2 separate regions of the Homo sapiens genome follow, and region 1 is linked to region 2. Evidence: fine-mapped expression QTL. Tissue or cell type: CD8 T cells. Region 2 holds a variant in brackets; the other region holds the start of a gene. All regions are shown on one strand. Distances are from middle to middle.

Region 1 (5,850 bases), 510 kb before region 2:
GAGACAAACCCAACACATACCCACACAAAAAACCCTCATATCCAAAAGTAAAGGATAACCAGACAATCTCTAAGATAAGAACTCTCAAAAGTATGGATCCGCCTTTCCTATCGCTCAGCCTCCTTAGTCTTGACAGCAGAGTGAAAACTGTTTTCTACAGGTGAAAGCCCTAAGTCTTCATCAAAGCCATACCAGGGACGGAAAGGTAGAAAAGTATTAACGCTAAAATCTCACGCCTAAGCTTTAACACCCTTCCGGAACAGTAAGACAGAACTAGGCCCATCAGAAATTCTACATAAAATCAGTGACCACTAGTCACTAGTCTCCTAGTGCTTGAAACTCTGAGAAAGCAATCAAGCAGTCCCTCATTTTCCTGAGATTTTTGGGCTGGCCTGAGCACACACAAGACCAACGGAGTCAAATTAAGTTGGCAATAAAACAAGCGGTTCCAAGAAAGCAAAAACTATTTTCAATTCCACATCTCCAAGACGCCTCAGGCTACAGTATTCAATCGATACAAATGACATTCACAACAGAAGCCGATTTTGCAAAGCCCTTGGAACTTAGGGGTCTGCGTCAGCACTCTGGAACGTCTATGCTTCCTAGGACCAAAGAATAAACAAAGATAACTCAAGGCATAAGGCGATCCAGCACCTAAGATCTCAGCAAAAAAAAGCTAGGTCCTGAGGCAGCTAGTGGAAAAACAAGAGAAGGGAAGTCAAAAGGCTACTTGCTGTCAGCTAAAGCCAGGTCAGTACTAATCTCTACTTTCCTGGACATTGGTACAAAAAGCAATGACAAGGCCATCAGTCCCCTGTTCCCCTCGCTCACTATTGTGTGTGTGTGTGTGTGTGTGTGTGTGTGTGTTTTGTTTGTAAGAAAATGCTTATAGTGGCTTCCCGCCCGCGCAGAACACAGCCAAGACTAAACTTTTAAACCTTGAGGAAGGTGGGAAAGTCAGCCAGCCAGACGCCGGCCTAGGAAAAGTAGGGAGAGAAGGAGGGAAAGAGTCATGTTTCAAAACAAAGGCTCCACACGGAACTGAATGTCAACCCCTCTCCACTTCCCAGCCTTCAAGCCAGCCAGGCTGGGCCTCGATTTTTTAGAAGCGGAGTAAGTCAGATTCACCCGGCTCTCAGCGTCCACTGAGGCTTTGCGATGCACGAGAACACGGGCACAGCCACCTACTTGCTGGGGCTGCTGCTAGCCCCCCCCCCCCCCAACCACCCCCTTGAGAAAAAACGGGCTTGGAACGTCGGAGACTTGCCCAACGTCCCACACTAGAACCTGAATTCAATTCCTTTCACGTCCGGGCAAGGCCAACGCAGGGCGGGCACCGGGCGAGGGCCGCGGGAGCCGAAATGGCAACGCCCCTGACCTGAGAGAACCTCGGGCTGGGAGAGGGGAGGGTCCCGCGCGCTCTCCCTCCGGGGCCCTTACCTTCCTTGACTCCAGGCAGCTTGGACTGGTCGATGCTGACTTCAGCCATACCGGGCCAGGGTCCCGGTTGCCCCTTTAACGCGGGCTTCCCGGTCACCGCCGGCGCCGAGCGGGGCCCCGAGCGCAGCAGCAGCGCCGGACGCGGCGCAAAGTCCGGCCGGCAGGGCTCGCAGGCCGGAGAACGGAGCGGGTCGGGCGGGCAGGGGCTGGTGACCAAAGCAGCGGGAGACGGTCCCCGAGGCACCAAGCTGGCGGCCCAGCTGCCCCGCCGCGGCCACCTGCTCCGCGTCCCCGGCCCCAATCGATACCAAATATCCGGAGCCCGGAAATGGACCGGGGCCGTCCAGTACGGAGGGAGAGAGGAGACAGAAAGGCGGGCGGGCCGGCTGGGGGAGGGGGAGCTGCAGGTCTGTAACCGCAATTGCGAGTGGCTGGCGAGCGAAGATCAGCGCCCGCTGCCGCCTCGCTGTTGTCTCCTTTGTGCTCAGTGACGCGCCGCCTGAGGCTGGGGCCCCGCTGTGCTCCCGCCCCCGGGCCCTGCCCCCCTCCTACGGGAGGGTCGCGTCTTTAGGTGGGGGCCTTGTATCCTAAAGGCCTCAACAAAAAGGCCACACGGGTCACCTAAAACATAGTCTTTCCCGTGAGCGGTGTAGTCAGCATTCTGTGGTCTGGTTCTGGGATTGAGATTAACACAGGATGTTTACTGCATGCTTGCCTCTCTCTCATACACTCTTTTTGCACCCGGAATTAGAGGAGAGATGGTAGATGGCCATAAAAACCCCAAATACAACGTACAGAATGAAGAGCAGCTGATAAAATTCTGGGCCAGTTTGGAGTAGAGTGTGTACACAATCAGCTGGGAGAACTGAGTCATTCATTCATCAAAATCGCATGAATGTGTCTACCAAGTGTGATGTTAGGTACTGTGGGTGATAACGAGGCGTCAGACTTATCTCTGTTATAGCGCTGCACACATTGGATTGTAATTGTGACATTTCTATCTCTCTAAAATAGACAACCTCTCCTGTTTCATCTCCTGGCAACAGAATGCATCCTCCTTTTGGGAAACTGCCTCTTTCCCCACTCCTCAGAGGTGAGCTTCTCTCCCAAACGTGTGCCATGTCTGAACCTCGAGACTACCCCATCACTCTTCCCCCTTCCTCCACCGACATGGGTTCATCGAAGGGTGGCTGGGTGACCAAGACAGGTCAAACAGAATACTTTCCTGGGTACATAAAGAGTTACATATTCTGTTTCTTGTGGAAAAGATCTGCCTCTAGGAGATGATGAGGCCAAACTGAAGACAGAAGCAAAGAGAAGAGAAAGGGAGATGAAGAGGGCATGTTCTGATGTTACCACAGTAGCAAAGCAGGATATCCCCAGAGCAGCTGGCATTTCAGCAACTCCTGGATTCTGGGATCTACAACCCGCAAACTCTCAACTTATCCTCAGTTTTGCTTAAGCTAGTAATAGTTGATTTTCTGTCACTCACAGCTCAGAGTCCCAGTATGAGAGGCCACGTAGGGGAGGTTTTATTTGAACTTGACATTGAAAAGTAGGTGGATTTTAGGCTAGCAAAAATTTAGAAGACTTTCAAGGCCAGAGGGTAGCAAAGTATAGCCCACAGGCCAAATCTACGCCACTGAATTTGAATGACTGTTTTTTATATGTTCAAATAATTACATTTCAAATCACTACATAAATAGGACATAATATTTTCGACCTTGCCTCTTAAGCCTCAAAGTCTAAAATATGCTTTACAGGAAAAGTTTACCCACCCCAGTGCTAGGCAGAGATAACACTCAGCAGGTTAAATGTGGGAATAAGAAGGAAGTGGTATTAGAAAGGTAGATTTATGGGAATTTTTTAATTGTCCTGTAATCTAGTAATTTTTTTTAACTTCCTGTGGTCTAGAGAATATTTATAACAGCAGTATTTTCTGTTTCCCTCCCCAAATCTATCGTTTCTACTTCTCTACCAAGCCGTGCCTTTGGATGCCTACAGATAAATCACTAGGCCCCTTTGACCTGTGGCTTCCTGTTGTGATTGACCAATGGGAAGCACTGGCAGAAAATCAAAAGAAGGGAGGAGAGAAATATCAGAGTATTCTTCTTTCCTTTAACCCAAAATTTTGGCCACAGTCCTGTCCCTCTATGACTACAGGGCCTGTGTAGAGGCCTCTTTTCCATGGCCTCAGCTCTCATGGGTCTCTAATAAAACAATTTGTTTCCAGTGTCCCTTCAGGCCTAGAGTGTGATGGCTTCCCCTAGTTCCTTTTGGCTCACTGCAACTTCTGCCTCCCAGGTTCCAGTGATTCTCGTGCCTCAGCCTCCCGAGTAGCTGGGATTACAGGTGTGCACCACAACGCCTGGCTAATCTTTTGTATTTTTAGTAGAGGCAGGGTTTTGGCATGTTGGCCAGGCTGGTCTGGAACTCCTGGCCTCAAGTGATCCGCCCACCTCGGCCTCCCAAAGTGCTGGGATTACAGGCACGAGCCACCACGCCCGGCCTCCCCTAGTTCTCTTAACCCAGTTAATACCTCTGAAATTGTCTCTTCATTACATTCTTTTCAGTAAAATCACTTACAGTGCACCTCCTGTTTCCTACCTAGACTGTGACTGTTACAGTAAGATATGCCAAAAGTAAGATATGCTTAAAATATGATGTGCTTACAGTAAGATATGCATAAAAATATCCACATTTCTGGCCTAGAGAAGAAATGGAAACATATATAATAGCCACAACTATTGTTTAGAGAATCGGCTGCTTTCAGCAGAAAAAGTAATGAAAACCAGGAGCCCTTTTCAGGTACTAGAGCAGATGACCTGGAAATCCACCCCATAGTTGGGCTTTCCTTCTCCTACTCCACACCTGTTCTGTATAGGTCCCCAAGCTGAGCAAACAATTAGAGCTCAGCATTACAGAGTAGGCAACTTCTAGCAAAGGACTGACAGTAACACGGGGAAGAGCTAGTATCTTTTGAGTATTTATAGGGAATGAACATATGGTGAATTTCTGTAACAAGTTTACATCTTTTGGTGTCCTGAAATGTCCATTTTGCAATAAAAGAGAAAGCATAAGGCTTCTCAGGATGGATACAGATCCCTAATTTGGGGCAGATGCCAAACAAGTAATTCAGCATCAAATCACAACTTGAATGCCATAGAGAGAAATAAGGATTTTATTTATAAGGCAATATGGAGGCATCAATTGATTTTTTTTTCTAGGTGGATATTACATGATACATTTTCTACTTTTATAAAGTGAATTTGGTAACAATAAAATGCTTGGATTGGAGTAGGGAGACTTTGGTCATAAGAAATGAAAACTCCAGTTTGAAAACTACCAAATTCCACAAAAGCATCCCCCAGTTAGAGCTTACCTTACTAGAAGGTAAGCTCTGTGAGGGCAGGGGTTTATCTGTTTGATTCCCTAATATCCGCGTATCTAGAAAAGTGCTTGGCACATAATAGGCACTCAATAAATATTTGTTGCATAAATAAATAAATATAGTTATCCAATTTTATTATCAGTAAGAATCACAAATTAAAAGTAAGTTAAAAAAACAATATAGGCAAATGAATAAATTACACTGGACCTTGGCAAAACAGGAAAGGGGACCCACAGAACTATACTTCTGGAAAGAATTATCTGTCTCCTTGGCCCCCAGTGCTTCCTAGCTCATCAGCATAATATACCTAAGAGAACAGTTCCAAAAATGAGGATGCAATTAGAACTGTTATTCACTTTCACCAAGAAGACTGTATGAATATTCTAAGGTTGCCATAACAAAATACCACAGACTGAATGGCTTAAATAACAGAAATTATTATATATGTTTTTCACAGTTCTGGAGGCTAGAAGTCCAAGAGCAAGGTGTCAGAACATTTGGTTTCTTCTGAAATCCCTCTTTTTAGTTTGCAGATTGGATTAGGGCTAACCCAAATGTCTTCCTTAAAGACCCTGTCTGCAGTGCAGTCCCTCTGAATTACTGGAGGCTAGGGCTTCAACATGTGAATCTTAGGGACAGATAATTCAGCCCATAGTAGAGACTATTAGGACAATAATCCAACCGTACAGTTTAGGCCTCTTTACTCCAGGCCTTGAAGCATTTTTGTCTGGACTCTCATAACATATGTAAGTTCCCCAACCCTATTCATGCTCTCAACTTTCCTCAGTTGCTCAAGTCCCCTCACCCTATGGAATTCACTATCAGTTACTCACAAAATTCCCCATATCTCCTTTGTAACTATTCCCTTTCCCTTCTTTTCCTACTGGAACTCAGGGGTCACCTGGGGACATTGCTCTTCCAAGAGCCCTCTAAATTAGAGGCTGTTTCTTCTAACATACCCTAGACCCCATTGGACCTGGAGGTGCCATGGTTTTTATCTTATTGCCTTTTTTAGAACA
Region 2 (8,524 bases):
TCTCCCACAAAACCTTGCACATTTTCTTAACAGCAATTCCTACATTATGTAGTGATCAATTTGTTTAATGTCTATCACTTTCACTAGAGTGTGAGTTCCTTGAGAGCAGGGAAGTTCTTGATATTATTCATCTTTCTCCCTCGGTCTCACGATAGTGATTAGAAAGAGTACTGTTCCACAACTATGTCTTAAAAGACTGTGGGGCATCTAACGTGTTCGTGTCAATGGACTTTCTTTCCATTAATATTCCTTGCACCATTCTGTCAGAGAAGAATTCAAGGAAAATCTGATATTTTAGAAGCAAACAAAAACCTCACCTTGTGCTCATAGAAAAGTTTGATATAGAATGGAAAAATGGGTTTAAAATACCAAGTTTTCACGGCAATCATAAAGGAAAAGTTAAAGTGTTTGAAATTAAACAAACTCCACCTTTCCTCACACATTACTTTTAATTGCAAAAATCGCAATTAATTTTGCACCAACCTGATCCTATGTAGCAGTCTTCCCAGTGCGATTTCAGCCCAAGCTGAGCTGTAACTAAACTTACTCACACATATGGCAGGCTGCTTCCTCTTTTGGTGTTGCTGGCAGAGACTTCAAAGATTTTAGAGACTTGTTCCATCAAGAGGACATTTGTGATTCTTTTTGTGAGGGTAAATTCTGATGGGGAAAGGTGAGAATGACATTTCAAAGCATGGTAGTACAATAGGAATGGTCAAGGATTTTTTAGTAGACGTCACTCTGGTTTTCAATGTAGGAAATATAAATATGGAAGTCTAGTGGCCTAGAGGATTACTCTCTCCTGTAAGGGATTTTGCATTCTTTTTATTTTTTCTTCTGAGTTGAGCTTCTCTGGATCTCTTTGGAATGTGCTGTTCATTTAAGCATGGATGCACTCAGCAGCAGTTTGTGGCCCGCTGGGCTGTTTTACTTCCCCAGCCAGGTTGTGCTTGCCAGCTTTTGTTGAGAAATAACAGGAGGTCATACACGATGTCAAGAAAATGTTGGCATGGTTAGAGAAACAAGTATTGTATTAGTTGCAATGAATTTAGACCTACTGATGGTAGGATTAAAGAAATCTGTGTCTGGCACTCTCTGCAGCTTGAAGCAGCTTACAATGAGCATAGCCTGGACACTAGAGAGGCTCAGCAAGCTGACTGGTACCTGGCCTTCTTGACCAAGAAGGATGTACCCAAAGCGTGTGGTAACTAAGTGAAGGTCTCCTAAGACACACGTAAGACCATAAGGTGGTACAGATAGAGGTGACGAAGAAACAAGGAAAAGAGAAGGAAGGAAGGAAGGAAGGAAGGAAGGAAGGAAGGAAGGAAGGGAGGAAGGATGGAAGGAAGGAAGGAGAAAGAGGAAAGAGGAGAGGAAAGGAAGGGAAAGTGGAAAAAAGAAAAGGAAAGGGGAAAAAAGGAAAGGAAGGAAGAGAAGTAGACAAAACTACATAAAATATCTATCTTTTGCAGTTACAAATTGAACTAAAATAGTAATAGCAACTCTGGATTGACTGTTTTACCATAGGTGAGTCATGGGTCCAAAAGCTTACCATATATTAATGAATGTAATTGCACAATCACACAATGAAGTCATCACTACTATACTGCCCTTTTACAGATGAGAAAGTAGGGCCCAGAGAGGCAAGTGAATTGCCCAAGAGTTCACAGTTAGGAAAGGGTGGATTCAATATATGAATTCAGAAAATCTGACTGTAGGATCCGCACTCTAACTTCTCTCCATAGGCTGAATCACCCAGACTCTTCTAGTAACCCACAAACATGACTTGATAGAAAAGGAAAGTGAATATGCGGAAAAGAAGATTGGAAATACAGAAGGGGAGAGCTGTAGTAGACCTCAGGAAGCAGCTAAGTTTAGAATGCTGGGACTGAAAGTATTTTTACACCCTATGCTTGCTTTGATGTGGAAAATTGATTTTTCGATTTTTTCCCTCATTATTGTAATGCCATATTTGATTCATATTTGATTCACTTTCTAATTTTTACTTTTAATGTTGCCTACCGCTCCAAGCCTCTTTTTCTGTTTTGTTTTGTTTTGTCTGTTTGTTTTTGACAGGGTCTTGCTCTGTCACAAAAGCTGGATTTCAGTGGCACAATCACAGTTCAGTACAGCCTCATCCTCTCTGGCTCAAGGGATTTCCTGAGTAGTTGAAACTCCAGGCATGTGCCACCACATTCTGCTATATACATTTTTTAGTTTTTTGTAGAGGCAGAGTCTCGCTATGTTATCCAGACTGGTCTTGAACACCTGGGCACAGCACTCCTTCTGCTTCGGCCTCCCAAAATGCTAGACTAACAGGCATGAGCCACCACATTTGGCCCTGTTTTTTTGTTACTGCTAATATGAAACATGCCTTAGGATTATATACTTCTAAGTCTGTTTGCTTTACCAAGCTTATTGAATATGTCAAACACCTATAGATTAAAAATATTACATAGATTCATAGATTACTCATAGATTAAAAATATTACCTGCACATGAATGATAGGGAAATATATAATGACATGATGGCATCTAAAGTTAAACTGGTACATTTATCATCACAGAAATCATCCATTTGATTTCATTTTTGTTTTTGCTTATTTTATATATATTCAAGCAGTATATATGACCCCACAGTATGTGGGTGACATCCTGTATGCTAAACCCTGATATACTAACAACGCAGCCTGAATTGGAAACCAATTACAGTAGAAAAGGATTATGTGAGAATATATCTCTGTCTGGTCAGATTCCCTCTTTAAAAAAGGGAAGACCATCATTACGCAGAAAGGAAGTGGGGATGAGAGAATACAGGTCTCCTAAATCCTAGGTGAGCGTCTTTTTATTCCACATGCACAGAAACTTAAGACATAACTTGTTGTCACAAAACCATAAAGAAAAGGGGAGAGCAACATGGAAAAAGGCAACAAAGGAGAAGTATATTTTTTCTTTTTCTGTTCGAAGGACAGTGTTGAATTTGGTTTCCTAATATTTTCTTGAGGAGTCTTGCTCCTCTAATTAGGCATACTGTCTACTATTTAATAGTTTTCTTTTTTTGTCATGTCCTTTACTGGTTCTCCTATCAGGATAACGCTAGCCTTGTAAAATGAGTTCAGAAGTTTCCTCTGCACTTCCATTTTGAGTTTGAGAAGAATCGGTATTCATTATTCATTATTCTTTAAGTTGGTGGGGGCGGGAATTCAGAAGTGAAGCAATCAGGTACTGGGCTTTTCTTTGATTGAAGACTATTGATTACTGATTCAATCTCCTTACTTATTATTGGCCTGTTCAGATTGTCTACCTCTTTGTGATTTTATCTTGGCAGGTTGCATTTATCTGGGGATTTATCCATTTCTTTTATGTTATTCAATTTGTTAGCATATAATTATTTATAATACAGTTGACCCTCAAACAACATGGGTTTGAACTGTGGGGATCCACTTATACATGGATCTTTAAAAAATAAATATTACACCAAGTGTGCCTGCCTTTCATTCCACCTCATCCATCTCTTCTGCCTCTGCCACCCCTGAGACAGGAAGATTAACCTCTTTTTTGCCTTCTCCTCCTCAGCCTACTCAACATGAAGACAAGAGGAAAATACCTCCATGATGACACACTTCCTCTTAATGAATAGTAAATATATTTTACCCTCCTTATGATTTTCTTAATAATATTTTCTTTTCTATAGCTTACTTTATTGTAAGAATACAATATATAATACATATAGCACATAAAATACATGCTGATCAACTGTTTACACTATTGGTAAGGTGCCTCATCAACAGTAGGCTATAGGCTATCAGTAGTTAAGTTTTTGGGATGCCAAAAGTTAAATATAGATTTTTGACTGTGCAGTGGATCGGTGCCCCCTATTCCCTATGTTTTTCAATAGGCAGTTGTAGACCTTTATGATCCTTTATAGTTCCTTCTCTTTTTTTTTAAGAGATGGGGTTTCACTGTGGTGCTCAAGCTAGAGTGCAGTGGCTACTCACAGGCTATTAGTGGACCC[G/A]CTACAATGCTAGACCTGCCATAGCATTTCCAGGATTGCCCCTTCACCAACTCAACTTAGCAACCTTGGGGTTCAGGTTCAGATCATAATTAGACCAACTGTAGTGGCAGCAGGCTTCAGTCTTGCCCCAGAACCAGGGAAGCTCTGGAGGATCTAGGAATACAGACTCCAGGCCTACCCTAGCAGACCAAATCAACACATTCACCCAAGTGTAACCAGGCTTCAGGCTCACCTACTTGCTAACCCAGGCTCCAGGCCAGCCAGCCCAAAGACTCCAGCAGGAATTCTGCTTAGTACCATATCAGATGGCCTGTCCAGAATCTCTGGGCTGGCTATCTCTGGACCTAATATTAATCAGCATGAAAGTTTTATCCTGTTGCATTTCTGACCTGGGTTGGCTCAACCATCCTTAAGCAACCTGGTGGTCCTCTGCTTTGTGAAATCACCATATTGATGCTAAACTTAGTGTGGACACCCAACCAGCATAGCATAATACAGCCCAGAACTCCTGGGCTCAAATGATCAACTATGTTTAAATTAAGATATGCATATTATTCTTATAGACATAATGCTGTTGCACACTTAATAGACTACAGTATAGTGTAAAAGTATTGTTATATGCACTGAAAAAACAAAAAAAAAGAACAGTGTGACTCACTTTATTACAATATTTGCTTTTATTGTGGTGGTCTGAAACTGAACCCACAATATTTTGTGGGTATACCTGTAGTGTCCTTTTCTTTCAGCTTGAATAACTCCCCTCAGCATTTCTTATAAAAAGGCCTGCTGTTGATACTCTCTACATCTTTGTCTTGGAACTTTTTCTCTCTTTTATTGCTGAAGAACAGTTTTGCCAAGTACAGTATTATTTGTTGGGAGTTTTTTCCTTCAGAATTTTGAGTGTTATCTCCCTTTCACCTAGCTTGTAAGATTTCTGCTGAGAATTCAGCTGTTAGTCATATTGGAATTCCCTTATATGAAATTTGCTTCATTCTCTTGCTGCTTTCAGAATACTCTTTGTCTAATTTTTGATAGTTTGACTATAACAGGACTTGGGGTGGTTTTGTTTAAACTAAATCTCACTTTGATTTATTTATGACTTTTATTTATTTTTATTGACTCATTGTACTGCCTAGGAGTCCTAGAAAAAAGTTAAACAGAGGTTGTGACATCTTCTATTTAAAAGACATCCTTTTCTTTTACTTGAATTTAGTGGGGAACATTTCTACATTTCACCATTACATATGATGCATGCACGATGTGAGTTTCATTTTGTTATGATGCTGTTTATTAGATTGAGGAAACTGCTTTCTATTTCTTATTTCTTGGTCATTTCTGCCATGAAAAGATGTGAATTTTGTTGAAATATTTTTCTGCACATCATGAGATAATTATGTTACTTTCTACTGCTCATTAAGTTGTGTTATATTGGCTAATTTTTAATGTTAAGTCAAACTTGTATTGCTCGGATAAAATCTACTTGATCATTGTGTATTGTCTCTTTCAGATATTGTTGAATTTGACCTGCTAATAATTTGTTGATTAATTTTATGTCTATGTTCATGAGGAGGATTGGTCTAATTTTTTTCTCGTTTTGTACTTAGTAGAGTTTCGATCTAGATTACTCCAACTTCATAAAGTAAGTCTAGACTTGTTCCCTCTTTCTTATCTTCTGAATGAGTTAGGTAAGACTAGTTTAATTCTTCCTAAATATTTTGTATAGCAACCAGTAAGGCTAAGCTTAAAATATATTAATAGAATTTTTAAAAACTCTGCATTTAATTTATTTAATAAATACAGAAATATTCAGATTTGATTCTTTTATTGGTCAGTATGCTAGGAAGAATTCTGAGATAGCCTTCAAGTTTCCTTCCTTCTAATGTGCATGCCTGGTATATTCTCCTTCAATGTGGGATGAACTTGTGTTATGAGTAGTCAAATTAAAAAATATATATTTGTTTATTTATTTTAGTAGAGATGGGGTTTCCCCATGTTGGCCATACGGTCTTGAATTCCTGACGTCAACTGATCCACCAGCCTCGGCTTCTCAAAGTGCTGGGATTATTAGCGTGAGCTGCCTTTTTCTTTTCTACTCATAACACCTTATTATGCCCAGTCCACTTTCAAAGAGAATATACCAGGACTTGTAAAATCCCATATGATGGCATTTTATCATATGATTATGTAATTAAGCAGATGACTGTGAGTTCATCAAAAGCAGGATTCTTGCAGATAGACCTGGCCTAATCAGAGAGCACTTAAAACAGGGATTCTGCCTCTTGTTGAAAAGAGAGATTCTCCTGTTGATTTAAAAAATGAAAATTTTCATGTTGTAGAGATTCAGGAAGTACCGAATGACCTCAAGGACCTAATATCCTCAATTCTACCAGAACTGGAAGAATTGGAAGAGGACTCTGAGCATCAGATAAGAACACCGGCTAGATAACACCTTGGTTTCCGCCTTGTGATACCATGAGCAGAGAACCTAGCTGCGGTATGCCTGGACTGGTGATCTACAGACATGTTAGACAATCTCATTCTAAGCCTCTGCACTTGTGGATATTTTTTAATGCAGAATTAGAAAACTAATAATGTCAGATTGGGTAAATTGTGTTTTTCAGAAAATTTGTTCATTGTTTCCAAGTTGTAAAATTTATACATGTAAACATGTTCATAAATTTTTATATTTTCGACGTCTATAAGATCTGTAGTTATGTCTTATTTTCATTTCTTTATTAGTAGTAAATATTTTTTCTTTTTTCCCCTTGAGCAGTCCCTCTAGATATTTATCAATATTATTAATATTTTCAAAAAATCTGCCTTTTTCCTTATTGATTGGTGTTCTTTTACTCTTTTTAAATTTTATTTTTTTAAATTATTTTATTTTGTTACCAGCAGGATCAAGCAGGTAAGTTTGCTCTTGTTTTTATATAACCAAGTTGCAACCTTATTTTATGACCTTAATACTTTTTACTTTCTAAGTATTTAATGCTATAAGTTTTCCTTTGACATTCTTTATGTGCACCTCATAAATATCGATGTGTTAAATTTTTATCATGGTTTGGTTTAAATTATTATTTCATTTATTTGTGTGTGTTTTTATTGTTGGTGGTGGTGAGTTGTTTTGTTGTTAAATTTCTAAGTATTGGGTGCTTTTATAGATATTTTGTTACTATTACTTCATAACTTAGTTCTGTTTTGATCAAAGAACATATTCTATATGATTTCAATCTTTTCAAATTCAGTAAGATTTGTTTTATGACCCAGTTTATCATCAATGTTGATAGATGCTGCATGTGCACTTTAAATAACTATATAAAAATCCCAGCTTCTGCTAAGGAAGTAAAGAGCTTAAAAGGGTATTACTCCTACACTCACAAGAACAGCAAAAAGTGGCCAATTTTCAAATTCCCAACTTTATTTAAACGCATCAGACAGTTCATGTGTTGGGACAAACAACTAACCAAAAATATAAGAAAAGGTAAGCAGCAACAGAGATCACCTGAGGCAGAATCTTCCTGGCCATAGTGAGAAAAATTTGGCTAAATTCGTTAACATAAATTTGCCAAAGGCTGAGTGTGAGGTAGCAAAACACAAAAAAAACCTGTGAAGAAATTTAATACTGACTCACAGGCTCTTGTTCACAGACCTAGGTGGGTGCTCAGCAAGAAAGATTGGAGTAGGGCAAGGAATATGAGCAATCAATCATTCCATACGATGCAGATATGGGGAAGGGTGGATGCAGATATGGGGAAGGGTGATTGCAGCTGTTGCATGGAAAGCACAAAGCCCACGTAGATTCTTCTCCTCTAAATCTCTTATAGAACAAAATACTTGCACCACTGATAGAAAGATAATATATTCTGTTAAGCTTAAGACATTGGTGGAAACTTGTTGTAGCTGGATAACGGCACAATAAATAAATCTATTTCTTAATCAGAGAAGGTCATAAATACTTAGTGAGGTCAAACTTATGATTTATAATGCAGTACAACCACTGAGAAGATAGAACCTCTAATAAGACCCAGGAACACAGTGCCTATCTAAAACTAAGGGAAATTAAAAACAGAGAATATTTTCAAACCTCCTCTGAACCAGGCTAATAAGAGTTGGATAACAAGTAACTGCTGTCTACTATTGAGGGAGGGAAACAGCATGAATGAAGGCATTCTCTGAAGTACAGGACCAAAAAAAAAAAAAAAGACAAAGCTCAGAGTAGAATAGATATTAAGAAAACCCTCTGGAAAACTCATCTCCATTCTAAATGAAAAGTAACACTAGAGGAATTTAAAGCCTGTACTGCACTAAGAGTAGCCATAACAACTGAAAAATCCAAAAGCAAATCTACTTCTCACTAGGTTGAGTAATCAAAAGCTGAAAAGGTGGAGAGCCATGCCCATTTCCAAGCACAAAAACAATTTAATTCAGTCTCTACTGCTCTGCAAAAGATGTCTAGCCTAAAAACAAAAATAAGAGATGTACAAATAAACAAGAAAGAGCAACACACTG

The links. PIP is the estimated chance that this variant, and not a neighbour inherited with it, causes the effect.
Region 1: CCDC50 starts here. The variant in region 2 is the best candidate, but not a certain one, in a credible set for the expression of CCDC50 in CD8 T cells (Kasela 2017, PIP 0.73).

What each region holds. Positions count from the first base shown.
Region 1 is chr3:191,325,314-191,331,163 of GRCh38, reverse strand. It overlaps CCDC50 (coiled-coil domain containing 50), which reads right to left and starts at 1,770. Exons shown (of 12, transcript NM_178335.3): 1 at 1,441-1,770. The coding sequence starts at 1,489. UTS2B (urotensin 2B) reads left to right here and starts at 638. Exons shown (of 9, transcript NM_198152.5): 1 at 638-750; 2 at 2,455-2,533. RefSeq lists enhancers at 1,001-1,601, 1,602-2,203 and silencers at 1,615-1,894, 1,995-2,074.
Region 2 is chr3:190,818,641-190,827,164 of GRCh38, reverse strand. No RefSeq gene overlaps it. Among named protein-coding and RNA genes, the nearest start is that of GMNC, 40 kb to the left of the region's middle. The variant G/A (reference allele first, on the strand shown) is at 4,016.